2 separate regions of the Homo sapiens genome follow, and region 1 is linked to region 2. The links come from fine-mapping of genetic effects on gene expression. A gene starts in region 2. The other region holds a variant in brackets. All regions are shown on one strand. Distances are between the middles of the regions.

Evidence for each region.
Region 1: its variant is fine-mapped to the expression of UBQLN1-AS1 in cerebellar hemisphere (GTEx, PIP 0.97).

Annotation. Positions count from the first base shown.
Region 1 is chr9:84,451,331-84,467,272 of GRCh38, reverse strand. All of the region lies in intron 2 of LOC102724036 (a long non-coding RNA gene), which reads right to left. It overlaps LOC124902192 (a long non-coding RNA gene), which reads right to left. Exons shown (of 2, transcript XR_007061630.1): 2 at 1,713-2,644. Among named protein-coding and RNA genes, the nearest start is that of SLC28A3, 120 kb to the right of the region's middle. The variant T/C (reference allele first, on the strand shown) is at 9,027.
Region 2 is chr9:83,700,643-83,716,584 of GRCh38, reverse strand. UBQLN1-AS1 (UBQLN1 antisense RNA 1) reads right to left here and starts at 8,750. Exons shown (of 2, transcript NR_135839.1): 1 at 8,273-8,750; 2 at 3,089-4,087. UBQLN1 (ubiquilin 1) reads left to right here and starts at 8,627. Exons shown (of 11, transcript NM_013438.5): 1 at 8,627-9,085. The coding sequence starts at 8,906. RefSeq lists enhancers at 7,825-8,713, 8,877-8,946, 8,714-9,604.

The DNA of each region.
Region 1 (15,942 bases), 750 kb before region 2:
CATACACACACCACATACACACCACCTGACTCCTGACCACAGAAAATGGTGTTCAGAGCCACACACAGGGGATTATTGATTTTCTCTTCTCTCAGCTTTTCATTAGTGCCCACAATTGCTTTTGTTCCACTGGCTTCCTTTACCTAGCTTTTTAAAAAATGAGATGTGTTAATATTCTCAGGCTGGTGCTGCTGTAAAGTTTAAAAAAGAAAATGAAACGAAATGTGTTAGCAGAAGGAGCCCAACTTTTTTCTAAGAACTGAACAGAGCTCTTCAGAATGCCAGTTCACCTTTTTTTAGGCTTGTCCATCCACAGGGCCTTTCAAGAGTCCAAATGCAGACCTCTTCCTAACGGCCTCTTCAATTACAGTAAAAGGTGAGAGTTCAGTGGAAGAAACACTCACCTACATTTTGCAGGCTTCAATCTGAGAGAGAAATAAAGCTAAACACCCAGCTTGTGGGAGTCCCTGTGTTGATGAATGACAGCCTCACCACATTGAGAGAGACTAGACTATAAAGTGCCACATTTCGACTCTTATCTGAAGGAAACCACCTGTCCCTTGTTCTATTCTGTTCTGAGACATGAATACAATTTTAAAATCACCCACATTTAGGCCGGGTGCAGTGGCTCACACCTGTTATCCCAGCACTAAGGGAGGCCGAGGTGGGAGGATCACTTAAGGACAGGAATTCAAGATCAGCCTGAGCTACATAGTGAGACCCCCGTCTCTACCAAAAAAAAAAAAAAAATGTAATCAGCCAGGTGTGGTGGTGCACCCCTGTAGTACTAGCTACTCCAGAGGCTGAGGCAGGATGATCAGATCACGTGAGCCCAGGAGTTCAAGACTGCAATGGACTATGGTCATGCCATTGCACTCCAGCCTAGGTGACAGTGAGACATTGTCTCTATTTAAAAAAAAAAAAAAAAAAAAAACCCTCACATTTAAATTTGTTCACACACGTGCTTAAACCAAAAAGCTCTATAAGAAAGGATTCAGCAATTCTTAATTAGACCTCATTATATAAAATGTGTGTGTGTATAAGCGTGTGTTTATATTTATACACACATTATGGCTGATATCCTGAAATAAACTCATTACAGAACATTTTTTCCTGCACATGTAATGACTATCCCATCTTAAATTTGCAAAAGTAGTTTTCTTCATGTTTGAAAAATTATCTGCTTGCCTGTCTTGGCCATATATGGAGGAAATAGTAAGGAGCCCCTCTCCCCTGAATTTGAAGTAATTCAAATCATAATTGATCTAAATGGAAAACAATTGTCAAAACTGAACCCCAACATGACAACAGGCCCTAAATACTGTCTGATTAAAAGAAAATGAGGTGCCAGTCAGGGAAACATAGAAATAAGAGTCATATTCCCACCCCGCCCCACCAGCCCTAGGCTGGGTTTTAGTCTGCAGGGTGGGCTCTGAGCCTTCAGCCACAGGTCTGAGATCCTGCCACTCTTTGCCCTGGGCCATGCCCTCCCCTAACCATCAGATGGCCTGATTTCTTCTAAATTTGCACATAGGAAAAGAATATACTGGGCCTCCTCAAATATCAGTTTTAGAATATGTCTGTTTTGTTTCTAGGTAAAGCCACTGGGTTTTTCAAAACTCTAAATGGAAATGATGGAATAGCTAAAATCTACCCAAGCAGGAACTTGTCCAGCCCCCTTCCAAAGTCATCAAATCCAAGTTACCTTCACATGGGTTTTAATAGTTAATTTATTGCATGTGCTGGCAGTCAAAGGAAACTATATACCTAGAGATCTGATGATCTCTCTGGATCACTGCCATGTCACATGATTTTGAAAGGATGTAAATGGTTCCCTGGTTTTGAACAAGCCTGGTGTAGCTCTTATGAGCATGTTTTTGCCCCTGTGGACTGTAACATATTTGATAATTCCTGAGAAGTTGGCAGGCTTATGTTTAAGAGCTCAGGCCATCACTTCTCGGCCTTTTGGCGAAGATCAAGTGAAGAGCTCAGGTCATGCAATAAGCTGGAATTGGGTTTGAATTTTCAGTTCTGCCACTTAGTAGCTATGTGACATTTGACAAATTGCTTGTCCTCTGTGAAGTCTATTTCCATGGTGATAAATGATAATAATAATGAATGCCACCTATGGCCAAGGTAAAGATTAAATGGTTGGGGGTGGTTATGCAATAAACAACCCTAAAATCTCAGTGGCCCTAAAACCACAGAAGAATAGCTCTGCCTCCTGCTCCACATCAAACTCAGGTTGGTGGGAGAGCTCCAGCACCCACCATCCCCCCTCAAGGGCCGAGGATGATAAAGTCACAATTGTCAAGAGCGTCTCTGTTCACCACAGCAGGGAGAAGGACTTAGGAAATTGCACAGGAGCTCTGCAAGGCTTCTCTACATGGAAGTGACATGCATCCCTTCTGCTCATGTTTCATTGACCAAGTCAAGTCCTATGACCATGCTCATCTTCAAGACAGAGGGGAATTACCCAGAAGGAAGAAAATCAGAACCATCAGTGAATGGCACTAATGTTGGCCACATATGCAGACCACGGGTTCTGGTGATGCAGAATATGTAGATCCTGTCCCTTTTCTCCTCCAATGTTGACTTCTTGAATATTTTGACTCTGAAGTTCAATGCAGGGAAAATGTTGGCTCTGTGGTAATGAATGCAAACATTTTAATGAGAATTTGTTCAACCAGTATTTGTCAAGCTTCCTGCATCCCCAGCCCTCTTTGAGACACTGCAGAGTGAGCAGTGAACCAAAGCCTTTGGAGCCCACAGTCTAGCCAAGGAGGCAAGACAAATAGACAGATATAATAATGTCAGGAAATAGTAATTACCATGAGAAAAAAGAAAGCAAGGAAAGAGGGTGGAGAGTGAGTAGGGTAGTCCAAGAAGTTCTCTCTGAGAAGTGATACTTAAGTAGAGACCACCACAAAGTGATGAGTGAATTGGGTGATATCTGGGAGAAGAGGTAACATGGCAAGATCAAAGGAGTGTGTGCCTGGCATGTACAAGTAACAGTAAGGACAGCAGTGTGGCTGGAGCAGAGGGAACCAGGGCCAGGTGGAGGAGATGAGGCAAGAGGCATAACTAACAGCCAAGCCGCGCAGGGCCAGGCCACAGCTAGGGCTCGGAATTTGTACTGTGTCAGAACATCCCTAGAGCATGTGGACCAGGAGAGGTCTGAGTTGCACCAACATGAATCCATGTTCATAAAGAGACATTTTCAGAAGTGAACTCTATTAATTTAATTCCTTGCTTAAACGATACTCAATTATTTCCATTTTTATTTCTATTTTAATAAATTTAGTTTGATTGCTATTAAATCATTTCCTCATAAAATTTATGGCATAAATTTAGTCCAGTGAAATTTAGTTCATTGATTAGTTTTATGTCCATACCAAATTTTACAGAATTTAGCATCTGCCACTGGGAGGTGTATTAGTCAGGGTTCCCTAGGGAGATAGAATCAACCAATCGAGAGAGAGAGAGAGAGAGAGAGAGAGAGACAATAGATACATAGACAATAGATAGATAGACAATAGATACATAGACAATAGATAGATGATAGATAGAGAAATAAAGGTGACAGAGATAGAGAAGACAGATATAGGTATACAGATATACAAAAGGGGGTTTATCAGGGGAATTCACATGATTTTGGAGGCTGAGAAGTCCCACGACAGGCTGTCTTCAAGCTGGAGACCCTGGGAAGCCAGTAGCACCCAGGAAGCCAGGGAAGCTGATGGTGTAACTCTCAGTCTGAGCCCAGAAGCCTAATCACCTAAACAGCCACTGGTCTAAGTCCTGGAGTCCAAAGGCCAGAGAGCTTACAGTTCTGATGTTCCAGCAGCAGCAGAAGAGTGTATCCCAGCTCCCAGAGAAAGAAGCCAATTTGCCTTTTTTTCTGTTTCTGTTCTATCCGGGCCCACTGCCCACTGGATGATGCCCCACCCACAGTGAAGGTAGATCTTCCCCACTTAGTCCACTAAGTCTCACATGCCGAGTCTCTTCTGGAAATACCCTCACTCTAGGGAGTCCTCCATCCAGTCAAGTTGACGCCTAAAATTAATCATCACAAAAGGTGTTCCTCGTTTGTTCTGTCTTGTCTTTCTGTGGCCAATATTTTGGTCAAATCCAATGTTTCTAACCCAAGCTTTTTAGATCTAAATTTTTTCAAAAAGATTCGATTTTTCCATAATGTATTTTTTTAATTATCATGTATAATTTTAGCCACTGCCTTTTTAAGTTCATGTTGATTATTTTTAACCAGACAAATTTTCCCCTGGTCAGTTTTTTGCTATATAACTACCAAGATGTTATTCTTTTTTCTTGCTCTGTCACCCAGGCTGGAGTGGAGTGGTGTGAACATGGCTCACTGCAGCCTCGACCTCCAGGGCTCAAATAATCCTCCTACCTCAGCCTCCCGAGTAGCTGGGACTATAGGCATGCACCACCACACCCAGCTAACTTTTTGTATTTTTTTGTAGAAGTGGGATTTCACCTTGTTACTCTGGCTGGTCTCAAACTCCTGAGCTCAAGCAATCCACCAGCCTTGGCCTCCCAAAGCATGGGGATTACAGGCATGAGCCACAGCACCTGTATAATTCTTTGGTCAAGGTTTTGTTAGAAGACTGTTTTGTTTTGTGTTGCTTGCATATACCAGTAATATACATTATAATTGAATTTTTAAAAGATAGTTTTACTGGTTTCTTAGAGAAAAGGCCAAGAAGTAAGATCTTAGTGAATCAATAAGTCAAAATAGTGAGCAGGTCAGTTTCTTGCTCTTAGCAAACACTGATTGCTCAGTAAACATACTCATGATTGACCCCTGTTACAAGTAGGACAATACTGTACACCTGAATTTCTATTTATTCACTCCCAAGCAGACTATTTACATTTTTTATTGCCAAAAAAAGGCATCATTAGCTGAAGTAGGGTTTCACGCATTAATTCCATACATCAATACAAGAAAGGATCTCTAACCTGAAAACAAGATATGAAAAAATAAATTTACCTGTGCTTTTTTTTAAACTCACAGGTATAAGTGATTTTTTTCAAGGCTAACGTTGAAAAGACAGCCTTGTCAACCCCAGCCTGAACTAAATGGTTCCGCATTCTTTCCAGCTGCATAGACAGGGTTCTGTTTTAACCTATGGCCATTGCACTGCTGTTCTAGAATGTTTAGAGACTCCTGAGTTGACAGAGCTAGAAGCTGCGTGATGACTATTTCTTCTCCAGATGCACAGGAGAGGAAAGCCTAAAGTTACTTAGCAGTTATCCAGGTGTGTATCAAATGTCTACTCTTCAAAACATCCTTATGAGGCAAGAATTTCCTCCCCATTTTAGAGACAAAGAAACTAAGGTTCTGACGGGTTAAGCAGCTTGCCCAAGGTCCCATGTCTGGTACAATAATGACAGAGGCGGGAAATGAAATCCAGAGGCCAACCGGCCTCTAGAGCTCATGCATTTTAATCCCATCTAACCCAGCTTCATAACGGTTTCTATTTCACAGCACAGGAGTTTTCAAACACCAGAGGGCACTTTTTCCCCACCTGCAAACTCTGTGTGTGTGTGTGTGGGTGTGTGTGTGTCTGTTTGTGTGTGTATATGTAAGACAGAGTATAGCTATATTGCCCAGGCTGGTCTCCAACTCCTGGGCTGAAGTGATCCTCCCACCTCAGTCTCTCGAGTAGCTGGGATTGGATTAAAAGCATGTGCCACTGTGCCTGGCTCCTCCTGCAAGCTTTTGACCCCTACATACCTCTCCCAATGTCAAAAAGAATATTACAAAAAGACAATAATCAGTTTTGAGCCAGTGTGGAATACTCATGACCAACAATGGAAATTCAAGGTATGTGTCTCACAAAAACACGTTCCCAGACCCATCCCTAAGCAATGTAACATTTAAAACATTCCAGACACACTGCTGTATTTTGCATTATGCACCACACTTCGTGTTGTACTGTGTTGTGGTGCCCAAGCCACACTGTTCCAGATTTGCATTTCACGAAAGTAAATCCTAATTTCCCTGACTCTGCGACATATGTAATACATCATGCAACCCAAGGTCTCCTTCATCATTCAGTCTATTATACACATTACAACTCAAGTTCACTCACTTTGTCAAAATAAGTCATTCCTTTGAAATGAATTATAATAACTTAAAAGAAAATAAACTAAGATTCATTTTTTTCATGTCTCTTTATCCAACCCAGGATATCTACTTTAAACAACCACTCAAAATGTATTAATAATAAAGGCTTTCTCTGACTTCATGATCTAAAAAGCTCCCAGTTAATAGCAGTCACTGATTTTCAGCTTTCCTCCCTGGTAGACTGACCATAAAAGGCTGAGCCTGGCTTGTCTGATTTATTGGTACCATCATAGATTGTCAATTACTCATAAGCACTGCAAATGCTGAAACATTACATGCATAGGAACACTACACTAAATTATGGATGGCAATGTTGAGAAGTGTAATATATGAGGTCCCACCAGCACAACCTAGAGAACAACCTTTCAAATAAAAGTCTCTGTTTTAATGAGCACCAAAGGCCCATCCACATTAAACATATGAACTCAAGAAAAATAAATCAGAGAATCACAATTTATGAACCAAAAAGGGTGCATAAAGTTTGGGAGGAACCTAATTGCTGAGTTAACAAAGCAAAAGCAGTTCAGCATGTTAATAGCACAAAATACAATATAGTGCCAATTTAAGTAAACTCAAGAAGTCTAGTACTCAACTAAAAGCCTAATATCAGTACACTAAGATATATATACATGCAATGAGTAAACTGAAGAGTAGTGTCTTGAGTGGATTCCCTAAGGCACAAGACTAAATTATTTCTCTAACTTAGAGTGGTAGAGGGAGGCTTTGGGGGGTAGCACAATCAGGAATGCAATTCTGGGACCTCTTTGCTCTGTGAATATAAATCATTAAACAGCAGACAAATGATTTAACACTAATACGAACAAGGGTTCCCAGAGAATTAAATTTCTCTTCCCACAAATGACTCAGAATAAAAGTGAATTGGGCCATTCCATCAACTCCCCAAATGCCAGGAAATATGATGCCAGCACAAAATAAACATCGTAAGAATTGACATGGCTGTCTCCAGAACGATCCATGCCCTCATGAAGTTCCTCAATCCATATGCGATCTTTCCCAAATAGACTAATGAACTCAGTGGTCATCTAGTATACAGAGTCCCCAAAGGCCAGTCCCACCACCTGGGCTCACCATGATGCCGTCTTAAGCATTTTAGAGCAAAAACCAAGGTAGAAGATTACCAAATGTGCTTTCTTAGGAAGGGCCATCTTTTATTCTGAGATTATGCACTTCCTAATAATTCATATAAAAATTATATTTCTTGCCAGGCACAGTGGCTCACGTCTGTAATCCCAGCACTTTGGGAGGCCAAGGCAGGCGGATCATCTGAGGTCAGAAGTTCGAGACCAGCCTGGCAAGATGATGAAACCCCATCTCTACTAAAAATACAAAAATTAGCCAGGGATGGTGGTGCACACTGTAATCCCAGCTACTTGGGAGGCTGAGGCATGAGAATCACTTGAACCCAGGAGGCAGAGGTTGCAGTGATCCGAGATAGCAACACTGCGCTCCAGCCTGAGCGATAGAACGAGACTCTGTCTCAAAAATAGATAGATAGATGTATAATTCTTTTAAAAATAATGACCATAAGTTTGTCACTGTCAAGGTCCTTTTAGTTTAATTTCTTAATTCAGCAAGATATAAAGTTAACAATTCTGTGTTGGAACCCAATTTTTTAAAATTTATTAGCTCATAAAACTAACAATCGGTGAAAAATCCTCAATAAAATACTGGCAAACCAAATCCAGCAGCACATCAAAAAGCGAATCCAGCAGCACATCAAAAAGCTTATCCACCATGATCAAGCTGGCTTCATCCCTGGGATGCAAGGCTGGTTCAACATATGCAAATCAATAAACATAATCCATCATACAAACAGAACCAAAGATAAAAACCACATGATTATCTCAATAGATGCAGAAAAGGCCTTCAACAAAATTCAACAGCCCTTCATGCTAAAAACTCTCAATAAATTGAGAGTTTTGATGGGATAAATGGGAATAAATTGAGGTATTGATGGGACGTATCTCAAAATAATAAGAGCTATTTATGACAGACCCACAGCCAATATCATACTGAATGGGCAAAAACTGGAAGCATTCCCTTTGAAAACGGGCACAAGACATGGATGCCCTCTCTCACCACTCCTATTCAACATAGTATTGGAAGTTCTGGCCAGGGCAATCAGGCAGGAGAAATAAATAAAGGGTATTCAATTAGGAAAAGAGGAAGTCAAATTGCCCCTGTTTGCAGATGACATGATTGTATATTTAGAAAACCCCATCGTCTCAGCCCAAAATCTCAAGCTGAGAAGCAACTTCAGCAAAGTCTCAGGATACAAAATCAATGTGCAAAAATCACAAGCATTCCTATACACCAATAACAGACAAACAGCCAAATCATGAGTGAACTCCCATTCACAATTGCTTCAAAGAGAATAAAAGACCTAGGAATCCAACTTACAAGGGATGTGAAGGACCTCTTCAAAGAGAACTACAAACCACTGCTCAATGAAATAAAAGAGGACACAAACAAATGGAAGAACATTCCACGCTCATGGATAGGAAGAATCAATATCATGAAAATGGCCATACTGCCCAAGGTAATTAATAGATTCAATGCCATCCCCATCAAGCTACCAATGACTTTCTTCACAGCATTGGAAAAAACTACTTTAAACTTCATATGGAACCAAAAAAGAGCCCGCATTGCCAAGACAATCCTAAGCCAAAAGAACAAAGCTGGAGGCACCATGCTATCTGACTTCAAACTATACTACAAGGCTACAGTAACCAAAACAGCATGGCACTGGTACCAAAACAGAGATATAGACCAATGGAACAAAACAGAGGCCTCAGAAATAATACCACACATCTACAACCATCTGATCTTTGACAAACCTGACAAAAACAAGAAA[T/C]GGGGAAAGGATTCCCTATTTAATAAATGGTGCTGGAAAACCAGCTAGCCATAGCAGAAAGCTGAAACTGGATCCCTTCCTTACACCTTATACAAAAATTAATTCAAGATGGATTAAAGACTTAAAACGTTAGACCTAAAAACCATAAAAACCCTAGAAGAAAATCTAGGCAATACCATTCAGGACATAGGCATGGGCAAGGACTTCATGTCTAAAACACCAAAAGCAATGGCAACAAAAGCCAAAATAGACAAATGGGATCTAACTAAACTAAAGAGCTTCTGCACAGCAAAAGAAACCACCATCAGAGTGAACAGGCAACCTACAGGATGGGAGAAAATTTTTACAATCTACCCATCTGACAAAGGGCTAATATCCAGAATCTACAAAGAACTTAAACAAATTTACAAGAAAAAATCAAACAATCCCATCAAAAAGTGGGGGAGGGATATGAACAGACACTTCTCAAAAGAAGACATTTATGCAGCCAACAGACACATGAAAAAAGGCTCAACATCACTGGCCATCAGAGAAATGCAAATGAAAACCACAATGAGATACCATCTCATGCCAGTTAGAATGGTGATCATTAAAAAGTCAGGAAACAACAGGTGCTGGAGAGGATGTGGAGAAATAGGAATGCTTTTACACTGTTGGTGGGACTGTAAACTAGTTCAACCATCGTGGAAGACAGTGTGGCGATTCCTCAAGGATCTAGAACTAGAAATACCATTTGACCCAGTGATCCCATTACTGGGTATACACCCAAAGGAGTGTTAAGTCATGCTGCTATAAAGACACATGCACACGTATGTTTATTGCGGCACTATTCACAATAGCAAAGATTTGAAACCAAGCCAAATGTCCATGGATGATAGACTGGATTAAGAAAATGTGGCACATATACACCATGGAATACTATGCAGCCATAAAAAAGGATAAGTTCATGTCCTTTGTAGGAACATGGATAAAGCTGGAAACCATCATTCTGAGCAAACTGTCACAAGGACAGAAAACCAAACACCACATGTTCTCTCTCATAGGTGGGAATTGAACAATGAGAACACCTGGACATAGGAAGGGGAACATCACACACCGGGGCCTGTCATGGGGTGGGGGGAGGGGGGAGGGATAGCATTAGGAGATATACCTAATGTAAATAACGAGTTAATGGGTGCAGCACACCAACATGGCACATGTATACATATGTAACAAACCTGCACATTGTGCACATGTACCCTATAACTTAAAGTATAATAATAATAATAAACTGACAATCTAAAAATCATCATCTTATACTCTAGGGCAGCCCAACTTTATTAATCAACATATACCCAGTAAGAATCAAGGAATGCTGGCTCTGCTTATTTTGCTACTTGATTATGGTTGGAGGAGAGAGCCATGCAGTATAACCTAATTTAGGGGACTGGTCCCAGCTTCCTGTAAAATGAATCAAGTAAATGAATGAGAGTCTCTCAAGCATTCACGCTTGAGCAGTTCAGTCATCTGGAATGCTATGGTGGTTTAGGCTTCATTTTCCACCTGGGTTGATATCTCAGACACACTGAAGATCCTTTCCACACTCTGGACTGACAGTTTCTTGACCTCCGTTATTTAGTTTCCACTCCACATCAGCTACCAATAGGCAACAAACCTTATTTTCACTTGTACAATGGGACTACCCTTTCCTTTGATCTTATAGCAAGGCAGGGGACCCAGAGGACACAATAATTGACAAGTGGTGATTGGACATGGCACCTCCCAAGGCTTAGTCAACCGAAGAGCACTTTGAAGTGAGCTTCATATTCCAGAAAAAGAAAGTTGATGGACCTCTTGCATCTTATGCAACCAAGGTTATGCAGGCAGGTGCCAGGGGCCTCTCATGCTGAGATGTACCGAATATTTTCAATGGGGGTTCCTAAGGAAAAAGAAAACATCCACTGCATGGCAAGATAGCAGATTATTTTTGGAAACTTAAGAATGATCAAAGAAAAAAAAAACAGGACTTCTTAAAAGAAAGAGAGAAATGGAAAAAAAAAAAAAAAAAAAAAAAAAAAAACCAAGCTTAATACCAGGAGCACAACCTACACTAGGGATCAAGGGGACTTCAAAGTCACACGAGGAGGCTGGGCACTGAGAATGGAGAGAAGCCCTTTCCTTTCTGCACCCACCTTCACTCGAGTCTGTTTCTCTGCCTGGGTGCCCTCCCTTCCCCAGCCCACCTCTTTAAGTTAACATTTTCTCCACCTTCCAAGACTCAGTTAAAAACCATTTCTTGGCCGGGCGCAGTGGCTCATGTCTGTAATCCCAGCATTTTGTGAGGCCAAGGTGGGCAGATCACTTGAGGTCAGGAGTTCAAGACCAACCTGACCAACATGGTGAAACCCCATCTCTACTAAAAATACATGCCTGTAATCCCAGCTACTCGGGAGGCTGAGGCAAGAGAATCGCTTGAACCTGGGAGATGGAGGTTGCAGTGAGCTGAGATTGCACCACTGCATTCCAGTCTATGCAACAGAGTGAGACTCCATCTCAAAAAAAAAAAAATCTTTTAATAAGCCTTCCTTCCCCTTGGCAATAAATTTTCTCTCTCTCTCTTCAGCGTAACCACAGCATTATATCTCTCTTGTAATAGTAGTGCCTATCATTTTATCCTTTGTATTGTGATTTAAGATATAGCACTATTTCTCCTAACATTTTGAAACAATCACAAGAGCAGATCTATGATTGATTCATCATTGTATACAGCTGATGTTCAATAATGACTTGCTGGTAGAAAAGTGAATGAATAAATAGAAAATTGCATATATTTACTTTAGTCTTCCTGCAATTCCACGGAAATCTCTGCCTCCAGGGTCAAATAAGTCAATAAAACACCAGAGAGCAGGGAGGCTTTCTCTAAACATAGTATGGAATTTGACCATTAAGGTGCATTTTTAATTCTCTATTTCTTTGGGGGTGTTTTGTTTTGTTGAGTGAGACACTGCACTCTGTTGCCCAGGCTGGATTGCAGTGGCTCAATCTCTGCTCACTGCAGCCTCAATCTCCTGGGCTCAATTGATTCTCCCACCTCAGCCTCCCAAGCAGCTGGGACTACAGAAGTAAGCCACCAAATCCAGCTAATTTTTGTTATTTTTTGTAGAGATGGAGTTTCGCTATGTTGCCCAGGCTGGTCAGCCTTCCAAAGTGCTGGGATTACAGGCATGAGCCACCATGCCCTGCCAATTCTCTGCTTCTTTTTATTTTCTATATAGTATACCTGGGCATCTGAGAGGTGGCTGGGAAGACATATACAAACCTACTGGCTGGGGGATGCTAATAACTCATAATTACAAAACTTCCACCTTTGGTAACTACAACCACTTCTAGATTTTCAAACTCTGTTCACACAGACACACAAAATATTATCTCATTTGACACTCACCACTACTCTGCCAGAAGAAAGATAAAAGCATCACAGGCATATTCTCCCCAACGGAGCTGATAAAGAGGAAAAAAAAAACTGAGATTCTGAGAGATGCAGTAACTCATCCCAAGTCATACAGATGGCCAGTGGCAAGGCAAGTTTCAAATCTAGATCACTCCTTTGCCAGAGAAAACACACCTGGAGACATTCACCAGGGGTAGGGCAGGAGTGGGGCAGGGTCCACAGGCTGAAGAGAGCAATGTTGGGTAATGGGTTTTGAGAAGGCAAAGTAATCCACACGAAATAAACAAGAGATGAATGTGAACATTCTCCCAATGTAGCTGCAGTGCCAGACCTCACTGACACACCCATCCCTGTAAGGGACCCAGGCAGTGACTCTGAAGACCATTGGCGTGTCCATACAGGTGTTGATCCATGGGCCTCAAGGCACTTGAAATAGATGAAGTCATACTTCAGCGTAGCAGTCCATCCATCTATTCAATAAGCATCATGGGGTGGCTTATTCTCCATGGGGCTGTAAAGTCCTATTTCTGATTTCAAAGACTGTAAATGAATGATTTGTAAGAGAAGAGAACAGAAGTTCTAAGAGTTAGGTGGGACGCAGTGGCTCATGCCTGTTATGCCAGCACTTTGGGAGGCTGAGGCAGGTGGATCACTTAAGGTCAGGAGTTCAAGATCAGCCTGGCCAACATGTTGAAACCCTGTCTCTACTAAAAAATACAAAAAATTAGCCAGGGTGGTGGTGCACACCTGTAATCCCAGCTATTTGTGGGACTGAGGCAGAAGAATCGCTTGAACCCTGGAGGCAGAGGTTGCAGTGAGCCAAGATCGTGCCACTGTACTCCAGCCTTGGCGACAGAGTGAGACAAGAAAGACAGACAGACAGAAAGGAAAGGAAGGAAAGAAAGGAAAGAAAAGAAAGAAAGAAAAGAAAGAGAAAGTTCTAAGAGTTAAACTCCTCTCAGCTCTACATGGTGGAGCCAGAAATGCCATACATGTTTTCTGACTCTGAAATCCTTGCTTGCCTCTCTGCTTTTACAGGAAAGGGAGACTGAGACAGGGTGAGGTTAGCATGACTTAAGCCACACGTGGGGCAGAGAAGAGGTAGGATTTATGAGAGCTAAATCCCATGTCTGCATTTTGGCCATTAAACAAGGCTCTCTTCTAAGAAGGGGACACAGTGGAGACATTGCTTTCCTTCTCTTTATACCAAAAGAGCCAAGAATTCAAAGCCCCATCCAGCCAAGCCCTCTGTAACTGACCAGCCCTCTCGGCTGTCAGCAGCACCCCCCAGGGCTGCCCTATACGTTTGCATGGCAGACATCTCCAAGCCAGAATCATAGAACTTCTCACCAATAGACAGTTGCTCATTTGCCTTGAATTCAACAACTAGTTGTCTTTTAATCACTTTATGTGGTAGAAAAATGAATTTCAAAAAAGATACATTCTGGGCCGGTGGCAGGGGCTCATGCCTGTAGTCCCAGCACTTTGGGAGGCTGAAGGGGGCAGATGCGTGAGCTCAGGAGTTCAAGACCAGCCTGGGCAACATGGCGACACCCTGTCCCTACAAAATATACAAAACATTAGCTGGGCGTGGTGGCATATGCCTGTAGTCCCAGCTACTCACAAGGCTGAGGTGGGAGGATCATCTTAGCTGGGGAGGTCTAGGCTACACCGAGCTGCACTCCAGCCTGGGTGACACAGACCCCGTCTCAAAATAAGCAGGGCAGTTGGGGGAGGATCCTCCGTTAGCAAAAAGCAAATAATAGGTGCCCAATTTACAAATAATACTCTATTTTCACTCTGTATGAGGAGGTTCTTTGCCTGACTCTAGATATTAATCTGTAGACAGATGATTCTTCTCCCCGTTTCCCTGTGAATGATGTGTCTTGCACACTGTGGTATCCCTCGCATCTAGCACAGTGGCTGGCATGCAGCAGAAGCCCTATATTTGTTGGATGTTGATGTTCACCTGTGTTCATGAGTAAAAAGGCTGCTATTAACCTGCTGCCCTTACAATACTTATCCTGGAAAGACCCCCTGATATCCAGGGTGGCTCCCTAGGCTTAGGAAAGCAGGGGCCAGTGAGTGGGGGTTGCCTGTGTGTTTTCCCAGCAATTCCAATGACAATGCGCCTGGATGTTGACTCATCTAATGTTAGATGTTAGTCCTAAATATGGCAGCCCACACTGATGAGCACATTTTTATGTGCCTCCTGCAAGAGACAATTGTAGCAGCCACATATAGCCTGGCCTTGGGACACCTGGACAGTAGGTAGTGTGCAGAAGTCTGCTGCTTCAAGTCACCATTCAGGAAAAGCAGCAAATGGCACTGCAAAGCCTCTAAGACTGTGCTGCTGTGGTGCTGTGACAGGAAAAGTGACAAGGAGGAAACGCAGAGTCATCATCTATTGAACATCCACTTTGTGCCAAGCACTTGGAAGTTGCTGTTATTACCCCCACATTTCAGAAATTAGAAAATTGAGGCTTCCAAAGGTCAGGTAGTTTGTCTAAGTTTCCTCAGCTGAGATGCAAATTCAGGTTCATTTTAAGCCACATCCCACATTTTAAAGGCCACTACATGGTATATATAATTCTGTTCTTGCTTTTTGAGGGCAGCACTTTGCCCAGCGTTGAGTGTGTGGTATTCCTGTCCTAGTGGCAGGTTGGTGGTCCATTGAGTATCTAGTGAAACAGTTCCCCCGAAGACACCGGAAACCAAGATTGTGGCATTTCCTTCAATATGCATATTTGCTCCATCCCGTCTCCCTTCCTTAATCTCTCATAATTTTTATTTTTCTTCTGACTTCCTGTTCCTTTCTGCCTATATCTTGGCCTTGCAATGACAGCCCTATGACCCTTAAAGCTACATGTGCCAAGTCATGGATCTAAAGAGCTTAATTTAACTAGGTCCTGGGATGGCCAAGTTCATGGCTGACATCATTTCTCAGAATCCAGTGGGGCATAGCCCTGTTGGCTGCAATGCATCAGGACATGGTGTGAGAGTCCAGAACCAGGAACTGACCTTGCCCACTAGAGGGACAGGCTTGGTGGGGAAAGCCCTACTGTAGGTGCTTCCCTTCTGGAAGGCTGAGTGAATGCTCCAGGATGCATAGCATTAGAGGTTCTATAAAGCTGGTGGCATCAAATCATTCTAATGGAGGGAAAAGGTGTCCTAATGATGTGAACAGAGGAGAATGTAGGAAATCAAAGACAGTGGACAATGCTTGGAGAACAACAAGGAGTTAGACTCATGGATACCTGCCATCAGGCAACAGGGGAACAGCCACTGGGCTCGTGACCAAAGCCAGGATCTCAGATCCTTGAGAGCTTAGCAAAGATCAAGGTAGAAGCCCAGGGGTACAAGGGCTGGCAACTGGGCAAGTTATCAAAACCCAGATGAGGGTGAGAGGTTGGAACAGCAGACTACAGCTCAGGGTGGAGAGAGCACATCTAGGGCTAGAGCCTGTTAGGGGTTTTCCTCCACCAG
Region 2 (15,942 bases):
GGTAATTTGTTACAACAGCAATAGCAAACTAATATATTGTGTTTCTTCTGGACAATTGTCTTTTTTTTTTTTTTTTTTTTGAGATAGGGTCTTGTCTGTGGCCCAGGCTGGAGTGCAGTGGCACAGTCACAGCTCACTGCAGCCTCAACCTCTGGGTGCAAACAATCCTCCCATCTCAGCCTCCTGAGTAGCTGGGACAACAGGTGGGTGCCACCATGCCTGGCTAACTTTTGCATTTTATGTAGAGATGGGGTTTTGCCACATTGCCCAGGCTAGTCTTGGTCTCCTGAGCTCAAGCAGTCTGCCCGCTTCCGCCTCCCAAAGTGCTGGGATTATAGGTGTGAGCCACCAAACCTGGCCTGGACTATTTTTCCAAGGGTATTTCTATAGTGAACAGTCTTAGAAGATAAAGTATCTTCCTACAAAGCAAAGGGAAGTCATGCTTACTGCCCATTATAAAAGATTTGGGTTCCCCATGTTTGGATTTCCTCTCTTATCATGCAAACCACTGTGTGTACAGGTGTCACCTAGCTCTCTTTGTATCACCTTGTGGAAATTAGGGCTTGGGTAACTGGTGCAAGAAAATGCTGACATGGCAGCCACTGATACTGCTGTGAGTAACAAAGACCTTTGTTTCTCATGTAGGAGTCTTGTGTTTACAGTTTGAAACTGATAGCTTGTAAGTGGGGACTCAGATCCTTCACAGTTATTTGACATATTATAGAACTTGGATAAGCCACAGGTTCTGCCTTGACCTTTCAACTCATTGACCATTCTCAAATGGGAAAAAAGGCTGTAAGAATTATTCAAGTGCAATGAATGACGGGAAGACAATACTTTCTTCTTTAAACACCTCTCAGCTTCCAGAAGCATTATATTTTCCCCCCAGAAGCATTAGTATCCTCTGGAATTCTTGGATGATTGGCATCATACTACAGATTTTGAAAATTCCTAACCTTCTTTTCTGTGTCCTCAGTAATCACCTAAAATTTCCCCATGGCTCATTTGCTTAGTTTATACATGACGGCAGACTCTTCACATAAGCTAACCTCCTAAGGTCAAGAAACACATTCCAAGTATGTTTGTTTTGAATACATTTGTCCACTGAAATCACCAGGCTTAGAGTTTTACACACAAAATAAGACCAAACCTGAGTCTACTTATCAAAATATATATCCTTCTATTCATATGTTTCCAGGAGAACCAGTCTTAACACTTCTGCAAGATAGTCAATGCTTGCCTTAGGGACTGTGTCTTAGGTTATGAGCAGTAACTTGTTTGTAAGAGAGGTCAAAGGAGAATAGTCTTCAAATATTTTCAGGCATTTTCATAAGACCTGAGTAAATTCAAGACTCTTGATAAGGGATGAGTAGGTGAGATGCAGTAACTGAGATTAAGTTTATAATGGAATCCTGGCAAGACTTACCATCTACTGGGAAAAATTCGCAGTGAAGTTTATCTTGAGTATTCTAATAGACTCAGAATTAAAAAGACTTTGACGTGAAATATCATTTTTGATACTTGATAACATTTGCTACTCCACTTTGTAAGAGGGGAAATAAGAGGAAAGATGCAGATGGTAAAGAGGATTCCACTAGCTCTCTGTACAGCAGTGGTTCTCAACCAGGAGCAATTTTGCCTCCAATGTGACATCTGGCACAGTCTAGAGACATTTTCTATTGTCATGACAGGGGTAGGGTGGGACTGCTACTGACATCTAGTGAGTAAGGATTCTGCTAAACATCCTACAATGCACAGAAAAGCCCCCCACAAGATAAAATGATCTGACCCCAAATGTCAACAGTATCAAGGTTGAAAAACCCTGTAATACAGGAAGGATTAAAAATAGACTGGTGATAGAATAATTCTGTATCTTGACTGCAGTGATGGTAACATAAATTTATGTATGGAATTTTGCATACAGCTACATGCATACAGACACACACATGCAAATGAATGCAGGTTAAAAATATGGTACAACCAGTAAGGTCTGTAGTCTAGTTAACATGTCAATTTCCTAATTTTGATATTATGCAACAATATCAAATGCCACCACTGGGGGAAGCAAGGGTACACAGGACTCTATTTTTGCAACTTCCTATAATTACTTCAAAATAAAAAGCGAAAAAACGAATAGAGCCCCAGCCATGTTCTCCAAAGAGGCTGCTATGTCTCCTTACCTTGTGCCGCTGCCAGCCCCCTTTGCTTCTGTGTGTTATGCAGTGCTTGGTACAGCACCAAGAAAACTATGGGATCCTACTTAGCAACTTTTATCCAAAGTTTGTAGTGGCCGTACATATATTAGGTTGGTACAAAAGTAACTGCAGTTTTGTCATTAAAATATGGCAAAAACTGCAGTTACTTTTGCACCAACCTAATAGTTGCTCCTTCTACCCAGTGTCTAAAGTTTTAGTTGGCAAATTAATAAGCACCCATCTTTACCACCACCTCTTCTCCAGCCCGAAGACTCAGAAACAACTGGAACACTTCATTCCCTTTGATTTTGAAGTAGCCCTAGAGATATTTATGAAGTGTTCCAATTGTTCCTAGGCTATGGACCCAATTTGAGACTGGTGTTCTAGGAGAGTTTCTATTCCCCATTATGAACTCTTTCTCAAGACATCGTCCCTCTCAACATGCTTAAAATCATATCCATTCCTTAAGGGCTGGCTCAAAATCATTTCTTTCAAAAGCCTCTGACTTTTCCACCTTCCCCTGCCCCAGTGTTTTATTTCTTTGAACTTCTATTGTAAAGCAAATAAGTTCTAAGGCATGTATGTATACATCTATCTTTCTTTGAATTAATCAATCATCTATTTATGTCACTATACTATAAACTTCAGGAAAGACAAAGGAGTATAAAATATGATCTACTGCTCTAAAGGAGTTTCCTCTCTGGTGGAAAACAGGATGGTTCAATAATTCATTTCAACAATAAATGCTCTCATGCCAAGAAATCACACTGGGCACTGTGTGGTATTAGCTTGGTGCAAAAGTAATTGTGGTTTTGGACTGTGAATTTTAAATCATTATAACTAGGCTCAAATGCATCTTATTAATCAAAATAGGAACCATTACAATCAACACATTTTTGCCAACGAGAAATAAGTTTGTTTATTCCTGTAGCATAAAAATCCATGCTTTGTGATTCAGCGAACTATTGGAAAGCATGTTCTGCATCCTGCTGGTTGTGGAAGCGTTTTCCCTGCAAAAAGTTGTCAAGATGCTTGAAGAAGTGGTAGTCGGTTGGCGAGAGGTCAGGTGAATATGGAGGATGAGGCAAAACTTCGTAGCCCAATTCGTTCAATTTCCCAAGTGCTGGTTGTGCAATGTGTGGTTGGGCACTGTCGTGGAGAAGAATTGGGCCCTTTCTGTTGACCAATGCCAGCGGCAGGTGTTGTAGTTTTTGGTGCATCTCATCGATTTACTGAGCATATTTCTCAGATGTAAGGGTTTCGCCAGGATTCAGAAAGTTGTAGTGGATCAGACCAGCAGCAGACCACCAAACAGTGACCATGACCTTATTCTGGTGCAAGTTTGGCTTTGGGAAATGCTTTGGAGCTTCCTGGTCCAACCACTGAGCTGGCTGTCACTGGCTGTCGTATAAAATCCACTTTTCATGGCACATCACAATCTGATCGAGAAATGGTTCACTGTTGTTGCGTAGAATAAGAGAAGATGACACTTCAAAACGACAATTTTTTTGTTTTTCGCTTAGTTCACAAGGCACCCACTTACCAAGCTTTTTCACCTTTCCAATTTGCTTCAAATGCCGAACGACTGTAGAATGGTCAATGTTGAGTTCTTCAGCAACTTCAGGTGTAGTTATAAGAGGATCAGCTTCGATGATTGCTCTCAATTGGTCACTGTCAACTTCCGATGGCTGGCCACTATGCTCCTCATCTTCAAGGCTCTCCTCTCCTTTGTGAAACTTCTTGAACCACCACTGCACTGTGCGTTCATTAGCAGTTCCTGGGCCAAATGTGTTGCTGATGTTGTGAGTTGTCTCCGCTGCTTTATGACCCATTTTGAACTTGAATAAGAAAATTGCTCGAATTTGCTTTTTGTCTAACATCATTTCCATAGTCTAAAATAAATATAAAACAAACAGCAATGTCATTAGCAAAAAAAAAAAAAAAAGAAATGCACATTAAAATGATGTATAACATAACCACATTTATTTAAGAATGTATTCCAATATCAAATGACAAATTCCAACAGTGCAAAAACCACAATTACTTTTGTACCGACCAGCAGTTCCCCAACCTTTTTGGCACCAGGGACCGGTTTTGTGGAAGACAATTTTTCCATGGACTGGGGGTCAGGGGGAGATGGTTTTGGGATGAAACTCTTCCATCTCAGATCATCAGGCATTAGATTCTCTTAAGGAGCACACAACCTAGATCCCTCACATGCCCAGTTCACAATAGTGATCACTCTCCTAACAGAATCTAATGCCGCTGCTGCTGCTGATCTGATGGGAGGTGGAGCTCAGGCAGTAATGCTTGCTTGCCTGTCACTCACCACCTCCTGCTGTGTAGCCCAGTTCCTAACAGGCCACAGACTGGTACTGGTCCATGGCCCAGGGGTTGGGGACCTCTGGTATAAATGATGATTAAGACTTGATCCCTGTTTTCAAGGCCTTTATCTAATAAATGAGATATGCACAGACATATGATACAAGACAGAATGTGGTAAGTGACATCAAAAAGTAATAAAGCTATATGGGAATACAGAGGATTTAAAGACTATTTCGGATCCAAAAAGGGTTATTAGGGAATGTCACATTTGAGTCTTGCGGGATGGGTAAAATGATGGGGTCAAAATAAGGGGGAAGAATTTCTACTTGCAGTTGAAGCTGGAAAGTGCAAGACATGCTTGGAGAGCTTAGCTGACCAGTTTGGTTGAGGATAAGATATGAGTGAAGAGCAAGGTCTTTGGTTTACAGAAGACCCTGGACACCATGCCACAAAGTTTAGACATTACTCTTAACACTTTGGTGACAGTGACTGGAAATTTTCAAGCAGGTGTCATAATCAAAGCTTCGTTCTAGGATAACATATGGCATCACAGGAAAATAAGAGTTGAGGATGGAGACTTTAGATTGAGGCAGAGGAATCTGTAGGAGGTTATTGCTGTAATCTAGGCCAGAGCTCATGAGGGTGTAAACTAGACTGGTAGCAGGAGAAAGTTTCAGATAATAGAAGCTGTGCTACAAGTGATGAATGGTCAAGTGAAATGTGCAGGTAATTATGACGGAAGGTCAGATTCTGTAAGCTTGGGTATTCAAGGAGTTTCAGAAAGCAGGTAGCAATAATGGGTACAAGGAGGTGGGTGTAATGACTTGAAGGAATGATCAGAAGTTAAGAAAAGTATAATGTATAAGTGCTTCTAGGGATGATAATAAAGGTATTTGACTGGAATGGAGCATATATATTGAGAGCAACAGGAGTCAACACTAGGAGTTACCTGTGGAAGGCCTAGTTAGGAAGCTCTGGGCTGGGCGCAGTGGCTCACACCTGTAATCCCAGCACTTTGGGAGGCTGAGGTGGGTGGATCACCTGAGGTCAGGAGTTTGAGACCAGCCTGGCCAACATGGTCAAACTCTGTTTCTACTAAAAATACAAAAATTAGCTGGGCGTGGTGGTGCATGCCTGTAATCCCAGCTACTCAGGAGGCTGAGGCAGGAGAATCGCTTGAACCCAGGAGGCGGAGGTTGCAGTAGGCCGAGATCATGCCATTACCCTCCAGCCTGGGCGACAGAAAAAAACTGTCTCCAAAAAAAATAAAAAGCTTTGGCTTTATTTTCTAGGCAGTGGGAAACTTATGATAGATTTTTCAGTAGCCTAGTAACATGATGAAGTCATGTTATTTATAGCACTTACATGACATATGTACTACCTCGTATTAAAGGTATGTTCCTGGACACAAGATTAGAGGATTAAAGTTTGTCAGAGGATACTCAATGAATTCTTATTGAGTTGACTGAATCATTTTGTCAAAAAAGAATTATTCTATCGTGAATAATAACCTTCTATCAATATACTTGAACTCTGAATAATGGATTTTCTCAAAATGGGACTTCTTCAGTTGGAGCTGGCTCATACTGGCTTGTGAGGGCTTACTGGTAAAATTTCACGTGTTTTGTGAGGCAGAGGATCTCAAGTTGGTAACCATTTGCAAGTATTTACATCAAGGAAATTGGCAAATGTAATAAAGTTTATTTTCAGGAGGACTGGTTATTAGTCATTTACCAGGACATCACTGCCAGTCTCCCTCCTATCCCTCACCCCCATCATCCAACTATCACTTCAAGTTTTTTGACGGCAGAAACTGAGTCTTATTATTCTTGTATGCTCAATATAGTATTATACAGTATTAGGATACTGTGATAAAATATGTTCTTAAAATTTTCTCCAGACAGACCATTTAACAAACAAAAACCATTCAGAAGAAAATGCCACAAATAAACATCTAGACCTGGGGTTGGCAAACTATCTTCTGTAGGCCAAATCAGATCCTATGTCTGTTTTTGTTTTGCAAGTAGAGTTTTTAGTAAACATAGCTATGATTATTCATGTATGTATTGTCTATGATTACTCTGTGATACAAGGGCATAGCTTAGTGTTTTAGACCGAGATCCTGTGGCTCACAAAGCCTAAAATATTAGGTTGATGCATAAATAATTGCGGTTTTTGCAAATTTTTTTTTTTGGCACCAACCAAATATTTACTATCTAGCCCTCCCAGAAAGTTCACTAATCTCTGATTTACACCATAGTGCCCCCACCTCCGATTCTCATGCAGGTCAGGATTATATCTAAAAAGTGCCATAACAATGGATAACTATATGGTATCTTCTTACAGGTAAATCTTATTACCTTATAGTGTCACACACATCAAACATTTTTAGACAATAATGTAGACACAGATAATTGCAAAGTCCATAAATGCAGGGAGACAGACACACACACACACACACACACACACACACACACGGTATTTGTTGGAGAATCAAGGGAAAAACCATATCTCTAAATGGTAGGGAGTGAAGTCTTCCTGGGGCATGTGATACAGGATGAGTAGAAGTTAGACAGGTGAAGGCAAGGGGAAAGTCATTCTAGGTAGAGGAAGGCAGCCTAGGCAAAGCATGCAGGTAAGACACAGCATGACAGGGAAAAACAGGTAATGAGGAGCTAATGAAGTTGAGGAGAAATTTTATTTAGACATATGGAAGAAATTCCAAATGATTGGTTGTCCAGTTGTGGCACTTTCTAGCTTTAGAAGCAGTGATCATCTCACACCTGGACATAACCAAGTAGTCATCCTTCATTAAGCAGAAGGCCTTGTTATTGAGCCATGCTGCCAGAAATTTAGGTGATATCAAATGATGTCTATACTGAAATCGATACCCTCAGGATTCTCTTAGACCCAGATTCCATAGAGCTCTGCTAAAAAGTCGTGTTTATGTAACAGTATTTATTCTCAGAACAGGGTTGGACGGCTTAGGAGCAGAAAGGCAGAATGTATCTTTGCGGATTTGGGTCATAGTGGGCTGTCAGGATTTAAATTGTGCAACATTGATTAATAATGGGCTGGTTTGTACATTCCTTGCAAGTCATCTTTAAAAGCCAATGACGTCATTTCAAATTAGGATTCTCAGAGATAATTTCTCTCTGTATTACACTGAAAATAATTTTGGAACTATCCTTAATGCCACTTAAAGCCTGAAATTGACCAGTAACTTAATTTGATAGAATATAAGGCGAACACCTCAACTATATTAAATTGTCCCATTTGGGTGGACACTCCTCGGGCACCCTGTTCCGCCCTACACACAGATAATCTGGGGGCGCTCGCGCACAGCTGTCATCGTAGCAGCAGAGGCCACTGTCAATACAGGTTGCCTGACTGATCGTCTGACCAAACCGGGCTAACCCGAGGGCGGTAAATAAGCTCTGGCCATGAAGCAATGACTCCGCAGGATTGCGCAGGGCAGTCACGGGCGTTCACTCCATTTTCTGTTCGTTGTGCTGAGGCCTTTCCACCATTAACTTACCCCAACTCCCCCGCATAGGGCAATACGACCCCTCCAAATATCAAACGCTAAGCATATTAAAATAACAAAATACCTCGCCGCTATTTTATCACCAGACCCTCCTCCCAGCGGGGAACGCAGAGTAGACAGAGAGGCAAGGGAGGGCAAGGCGATTGTGACAGCGCGGAGGGGTGAACACGGCCCAGCTGGGCATGAGGTAAGGTGGGGAGACTACCTGGACAGCAAGCGCGCAGGCGCAGCCGCGGCCGCAGGGCCCACTGGTCCCTTTCTAGTAATTTCGCTAACCGTGACGTCATCTCGGTGCGCCGTTACAGCGCTTAACTGGAAACTGCGATTTAGTTTTTGGTGAAAGGAGTGGAAAAAAACCATGAACTGACCTACCCCGCCCCATTTTGCTTTTAGTCCTTCACACTGGCTTCGCCTGCACTTTGGGCAATGGAGCGGGAAAGGAAAAGGCACGCAGGCTGAGCTCAAAGTCGCGCCAGCCGGGGATGACTCGGCGACGCCGCCAGGCGCGTTACCCGGCGTGCTCCGCGCGGCGCCGGCGAAGGGACGTGGGGGAAGGGGCAGGGAGGAGGAAGCGGTGGCTGCTGCGGATGTCGGTGTGAGCGAGCGGCGCCTGAACACACGGCGGCTGCCGAGCGCCTGACCCGGGCCTGCGCCAGAGCCTGCACCGAGCTCCGGGGCCCCACACCCGCTACGGTGGCCCTGCGCCCGTTGCTACTGAGGCGGCGTGCTCTGCATTCTTCGCTGTCCAGGCCTGCCGGCTCTGGTGTCTGCTGGCTCCTCCTTGCTCGCCTGCTCCCTCCTGCTTGCCTGAGTCACCGCCGCCGCCGCCGCCACAGCCATGGCCGAGAGTGGTGAAAGCGGCGGTCCTCCGGGCTCCCAGGATAGCGCCGCCGGAGCCGAAGGTGCTGGCGCCCCCGCGGCCGCTGCCTCCGCGGAGCCCAAAATCATGAAAGTCACCGTGAAGACCCCGAAGGAAAAGGAGGAATTCGCCGTGCCCGAGAATAGCTCCGTCCAGCAGGTGAGGCCGCCTGGGGCTCGGGCCGGGATGGGGGTGGCGGCAGGACCTCCGCCCGCCGCCCCAGGAGACCTTTTGGAAGGGCCTGGGAGAGGGGTCGTCCTCGGCCATTCTCCCGGGCGTCGTCCCAAATTAGATCACACCCAAGTTCGTGGGTTTGCGCCTTGGGACACCGCAATGGTTTGTGGCGTGGCGGCGCGGCCTGTTTGTGGGACGGGCTGATGCCGCTTTTCTCGGAGCCTTCCTTCTCTGGTATCCGCCGACCCTCAGCCTCCTCCCCCAGTTCCCCGCCCTCCGTCGCCTCCCCTCCAACTCCTCACAAAGGAAAGGGACCCACCGCCAGCCTCCGGGCGGGGTGGAGGCTGGGCGGGGGCGAGGGTTCGCTTTAGCTCAGGCTGCGGTTTTGTTTCATGAATTAAAAAGGGGTGGGTGGGATCCTCGTTGTTTTACGTGCCTGCTTGTTAAGGTGGGTTTTGGGGTGAGGTGCATGTGTATATTTAGTTCTGCATTTTAACTCCTGAAATCTTTCCCACCTTGCAACCTTTAAAAAAAAATTATGACGTAGAAACTGTTTTTAGCTCCATCTTAAGTAATAGTGATAGTACTAGGTTTAAGGAGAAAAGTGAATGACTTTCTTTCACTGATGACTTGCTCTTTCCCTTTTAGTATGTTTATCATCTCTTAGATGCCAATCATTGGGTAGGTTTTTGTTTGATTTTAGAGGGGCGATAGCGATGTTGATATTAGCGGTTGCAATCAAATAAAAGAAAATCGGAGTGAATGCAGAATATTACTTAAACTTGGTTCAGGAATACAAATCTTGCAGTTAATTAAGATTCTTGGTGGAATTTAACAAATAATTTTAGTGTATTGTTGAATACGTCGTGTTTTCCATAATTACTGACTTAATCTCTGAAGATCGCAAACAACGTGAACAGTTGGTGACAGGAAACAACAATTCCTGAAATGTACCTATCAGTTTCCCCAGGGACAGTAGGTGATTGGGGTATTGGTTTAACGAGTTCCAAAGGTAGTGTATTTTGTGAAGCAGTGAGGTGTGTAACATCAAATGAGAGAAACTTTTACCACCAACAGAATTATCACTTTTGTTTTTGTCTCCCAGTGCTTGTAAAAATTTTCCTTACCATTTTTGTATTTTCAAGCATGCGGAAAGTTGAAAGAATTGGGAAGTGGATACACATATGTCCATCATCTACAATTAGCATTTTACGGTATTATAATCGATTATCAAGTTCATTTAATTTTGGGGAGCAATTCAGAGTAAGTTGCACGTATCAGTAGATGACACCAGTACATGTCACTTCAGCATTGTGAACTTATTTGCCTAAGTTCAACTTCATTTTTTACGTTTTTTTGACGTAATTTTGGCAGCAGTGAAATGCATATGGTTGCCATTCCGTGAGTTTTCATAAATGCTTACACCTGTGTAGCCCAAGCTCTTATCAAGATATAGAACATTATAATTGACTAGAAAGTTTTTTCTTGCCTTTTCCCAGTCATTTCAGTCACTTGGCCTTTCCATCAACCACCCAGTTTTTTTTTTTTATGCCCTAAGTTACAGAGTTGCCTGTTTTAGAACTTAACATTAAATGGGATCCCATAGAGCCTATAGTACTGTGTGTATTTTTCTGGGTAAGGCTTTTTTTTCCCACTCAGCATAATGTTTTTGAGTTTCGTCTTTGTTGCGTGTATCAGTAGTTCCTTTCTTTTTATTAGTGTGTAGTTTTCCACTGTATGTGTATACCATAATTAATCTATTCACTGTTGAAGGTCACCTGGGCTGTTTGCAGTTAGTTACTATGAACAGTCTTATACAAGTCTTTTTGTGGTCTTACTCTTTTATCTTTCATGGTTATATACTTAGACTTGGTTTGAGTAGGTCATAGGGCAATTGTATGTTTCAGTTTTGTGAGAAACTATGTTTTAAAAAATGCTTCTGGGCCGGATGCGGTGGCTCACACCTGTAATCCCAGCACTTTGTGAGGCCGAGGCGGGTGGATTGCCTGAGGTTCGAGACCAGCCTGGCCAACGGGGTGAAACCCCGTCTCTACTAAAAATACAAAACTTAGCTGGGCGTGGTGGCAGGCACCTGTAATCCCAGCTACTGGGGAGGCTGAGGCTGAGGCAGGAGAATCATCGCTTGAACCTGGGAGAGGGAGGTTACAGTGAGCCGAGATTGCGACATTGCAGTCCAGCCTGGGCAACAAGAGTGAAACTCCGTTTCAAAAAAAAAAAGGAGTGCTGGCTTCAGCAGCACATATACTGAAAAATGCTTGTATCATTTTACCATCCCGCCAATGAAGATACATGGGAGTTCCTGTTGCTCCATATCCCTGCTAACATTTTGATATTGTCAGTCTCTGTAATTTTAGCTATTTTAGCGGGTGTGTAGCCATATTAAGTTTTAAAGCTCTCGGATCTCTTTTCTAGGATTCCTAATTCATGCCTCCACCATCCTGGGTGCTTTCAGCATTTTACTGCAAAAGATTAGAAATAATCAGTATTTTATAAATAGAAAAATTCCTTTCAGTCAATATATGATGTTATAGCTGTGAGGATGTTTTTGCTTTTTGTGATGTTAAAATTATAAATTCTGTGAACGCTTTTATTTTACTCTGCTGTAACCAAAGTGAGATTTTTTTTTTTTTTTTTTTTTTGAGATGGAGTCTCTGTCACCCCCCAGGCTGGAGTGCAATGGCATGGTGTCGGCTCACTGCAACCTCCCCTTCCCGGGTTCAAGGATTCTCCCACCCCAGCTTCCCTAGTAGCTGAGACTACAGGCGCATGCCACACCACACCCGGCTAATTTTCCTATTTGTAGTAGAGACAGGGTTTCACCATGTTGGCCAGGCTGGTCTCGAACTCCTGATCTTGTGATCCGCCTGCCTCGGCTTCCCAAAGTGCTAGGATTACAGGTGTGAACCACCGGGCACCCGGCCCAGTACGAATTGTTAATAGATAAAATTAAAGTCTTTCTGAAGTAGCCTTTTCTGATGGTAGTTTATTTTTAAATTCTTGATCATTGTTTTATGTTGAAGCAGAAAATGTGATAAAAATTGACGCTTATCACCACACCAGAGAACCTGTAGACAAGTTGGGCTTTGTATATGCAAGGGAAACAGATACAGGAAAATGTGGAAGAAAAAGAAAAGCAGTTTTCAAATGACCTATTTGTAAAATCTACTTGAAGCACAAAAGATATGCCATTTTATAATTTAAAAATTTTAAAGGGTTTGATTGAAACTGTTTGTTACAAATGAAAATTTGTCATTAAAAATACTTAATGACATTAAAATTCCACTGAAAGTGTCCAGTTAGAAATTGGGAAATATTTAGTCTTTAAAATTTGTACCTAATTTTGGAGGGTCAGAGGGTAAGCCGAAGACCTCCAGAGGATAATATTGAAGGCTTATGCTCTGTATCAGACAAATTCCGTTTTCTATAAGTTAAAATTTCTTTCAATAAGTATTTCTATGTAATGTAGATTCCTTAACACATTATACCAAAATTCTGTTTATATGAACATGCTGTAATAAGTGATTAGATGAAATTACGTTAAACTTCTTGGGTAAATTGTAAGGTGGTAATTTATTTTCCTATTTTTCCATTGGTTTCTGGTCGTGAGTACCAACAGGCAGAAACAGGTTGCCTTAATTTTTTACAGTGCTATATACATTTGGTATTTAATAATGTTACTTGTTCAAGGTTACTAATAAAGCTTAAGCTTTTTTCCAATTTAGAGTGAAATTTATTATTCACGGAGCACTCAGAATCAACTGAGTAACATAAATTTTTACTTACAGGTTGCTAGAATAGGTAGTGAGAATATAAACTGCACTGTGTACATTCCAAGGTGCTGTCATTAATAGAGATTTTTGTAATACAGGTTTTGAGTATCCCTTATGGGAAATGCTTGGGACCAGAAGTGTTTGGGACTTTGGATTTTCTTTTTTTTTGGATTTTGGAATATTTGTATATACATAATGAGATATCTTGGGGATGGCACCTAAATATAAACATGAAATTCAGTTATATTTCATGTACATTTTATGCACAGAGCCTAAAGGTAATTTTATACAATATTTTAAATAATTTTGCGAGTGAAACAAACTGTATACATTGAACCATCAGAAAGCAAAGGTGTTACATATGGGATTTTTCCACATGTGATGTCATGGTGTTAAAAAATTTCAGATTTTGGAGCATTTCAGATTTCATATTTTTGGATTGGGGATGCTCAACCTGTATGTAAGTAAATAGATACAAAAGCATAAATGTGTAGTGGCACAAAGTCCCTGTGTATGAGATTTTTTTTTTTTGGTTAATTGTTCATCATCAGCTATTGAAAAGAGCTTTGAGGATTTCCAAGTATCCACGAGCAAGATAACATCTAGAAGAATGGAGAGTTATATATGTGAGACATTAGTGCAGATAATGGAGGGGAGTTTCTGTGTAACTTCTAATTAGCTTATTCTGGGATTTCATAGACTGTTAGGTTATGTGTAAAATTTTGAAGTACATTTACTTGAAATGTTCAGGCAGTATATACTCTGGTTTTAGAAAGTGCCTTCTGTCAGTGCAAACTTCTGGGAAAATATTAATATACTTAGACATAATTTAAACGTATTGAGTCAAATTGAGCCTTTCTTTGATAAGGCAACTTGCCTTAGGGTCATCATCACACACATGATTTAACGTTATACTGTATAGTGTGGATCTAGAACTATACTGTCCACTTTGATACCATCACCCACATGTGGTTAAGTACTTAAAAAGTGAGATGTGTTAAGTGTAAAATTTATACCAGATTTTGAAAATTTGGTATGAACAAAATAAATATCTTAATACTTTTGATATATTATGTATTGAAATAGTATTTTGCAGATCGTGAGTTAAGTAAAATATCAAAATTAATTTGACCTTTTATTAAAAACTTTTTTTTCAGTATGGCTGCTTAAAATTTTTAAATTACTTGTGGCTTATATATATTTCTGCTGGACAACATCTTATCCAGAAGGTTGGATTGAATCAGTATAGCAAGATATCTGAGAAAAAAAATGTCTGTGAGATCATTGTTTTCTTATTTGCTTTGTTCTAATACTGGACAGCTGAAAAACTCGTTATTTAATGATTCTGATTAACAGAGATTGCTTAGCTTTTTTTAAGAAAGAGCGTAATTGAAGTGTAATTTGCCTACCATACAGTTCACCATTTTAAAGTCTGTAATTGATGTAATACATTCACAGGGTCGTGTAGTCAATTTTAGAACGTTTAGAACCCTCAAAAAGAAACGCTGTACCCTTTAGCAGTTGCCCTTCGTTTCTCCCTGGGCCCCCCAGCCTTAGGCAACTACTGATCTATTTTTTGTCTATAGATTTGCTTGTTCTGGGCGTTTGTTGTAAGTGGAATCATGTGGTCTTTTGTGATTGGCTTTCACTTAGCATAGTGTTTTCAAGGTTCATCCCTGTTGAAGCATGTGCCGGTACTTACTTCCTTTTTATTGCCGAATAACATTCCATTGTGTTGCCAACAGCATTCCACATTTTATTTTTCTATCACGTGGTGGACATTGGGTTGTTTCTACTTTCTGGCTATTGTGACTAATGCCTCTGAACACTCATGTATAAGTTTTTGTGGGGACATAACGTTTTCATTTTTCTTGGGTGTAGATCTTGGAGTGGAAATTGCTGGGTCAAAGCTCTATGTTGAGCTTTATGAGGAGCTGCCAAATTATTTTCTAAGGTGTCTGTACCATTTTACATTTCCACTAGCAATGCATGAGGATTCCGATAACCACATTCTCGGTAATACTTATTACTGTCTTTGTGATTATAGCCATCTTACTGGCTGTGAAATGGTATCTTACTGTGATTATTTTGCTTTTTATTTTCATTATTATTTTTGCTGGGGGCACTCTGAGGAAAACTGGACAGCCTGCTAGACAAATTTGCTTTTTGTTATCTGAGCAGTAGTTCTCACTGTGGTTTGGGGAGTCCCCATACCCTGTTAAGGGTACCATGAGATGAAACTATTTTCATAGTAATTCTGAGATGTTATTTTTATTTTTCAGTCTAATTTTCTCAAAACTGGGCAGTGCACTTGGCTAGAGTCTTTAAGGTGTGGGATATGACAACAGATGTGAAAATCCAGCTGTCTTCTATTACAAGACTAAAGTGATTTCCAAAAATTTAAAATAATGCCACTCTTATCACTGAGAAAATAGTTATTTTTCATAAGGATGTTATTTTTATTAATATATAATGTATTATTTTTAAATGAATTTATTTTTAAAGGTTATTCAGTTTTAATTTGTAATATTATAAATATCAACAGCTATAACCTAAACAAGCAAAACTCTTTGGAGTTCTGAAGTTGTAAAATGGTGTCCTGAGAGCAAAAATTTCTGTGGTGGCGTATTTTATAGATTACGTACTTAAAATATCGGGTAGTGGCTCCAATAAGTTGCCATTACCTCTTGCCTAGAAACTGCAGTAGCCTACTGGTCAGTTGCCTGACTTCTATAACTCTCCCACCAGCCATTCCAAGAGTGATCTCTGAAAAACGTTAATCAGAGCATGCCACCCTCTGTGTAAAGCTAATGGCTCCCTGTTGGTCTTAGAATATATAATGGAGTAGCGAGGCCCTGTGTAATACGGTTCCATGCCCTCTCCATTTTTTGCAGATGCCTTCTTTCTTTGCTTGCTTGGCTGACTACATTGACCTTCTAGTTCCCTGACCTGTTAATACTTTTTTTCCTGCCTGAGGACTTCTGTACAGTTTGTTCTTGCTACCTAGAATGCAAGAACACTCTTTGCCCATTCCTTTTCCATCTTTAAATC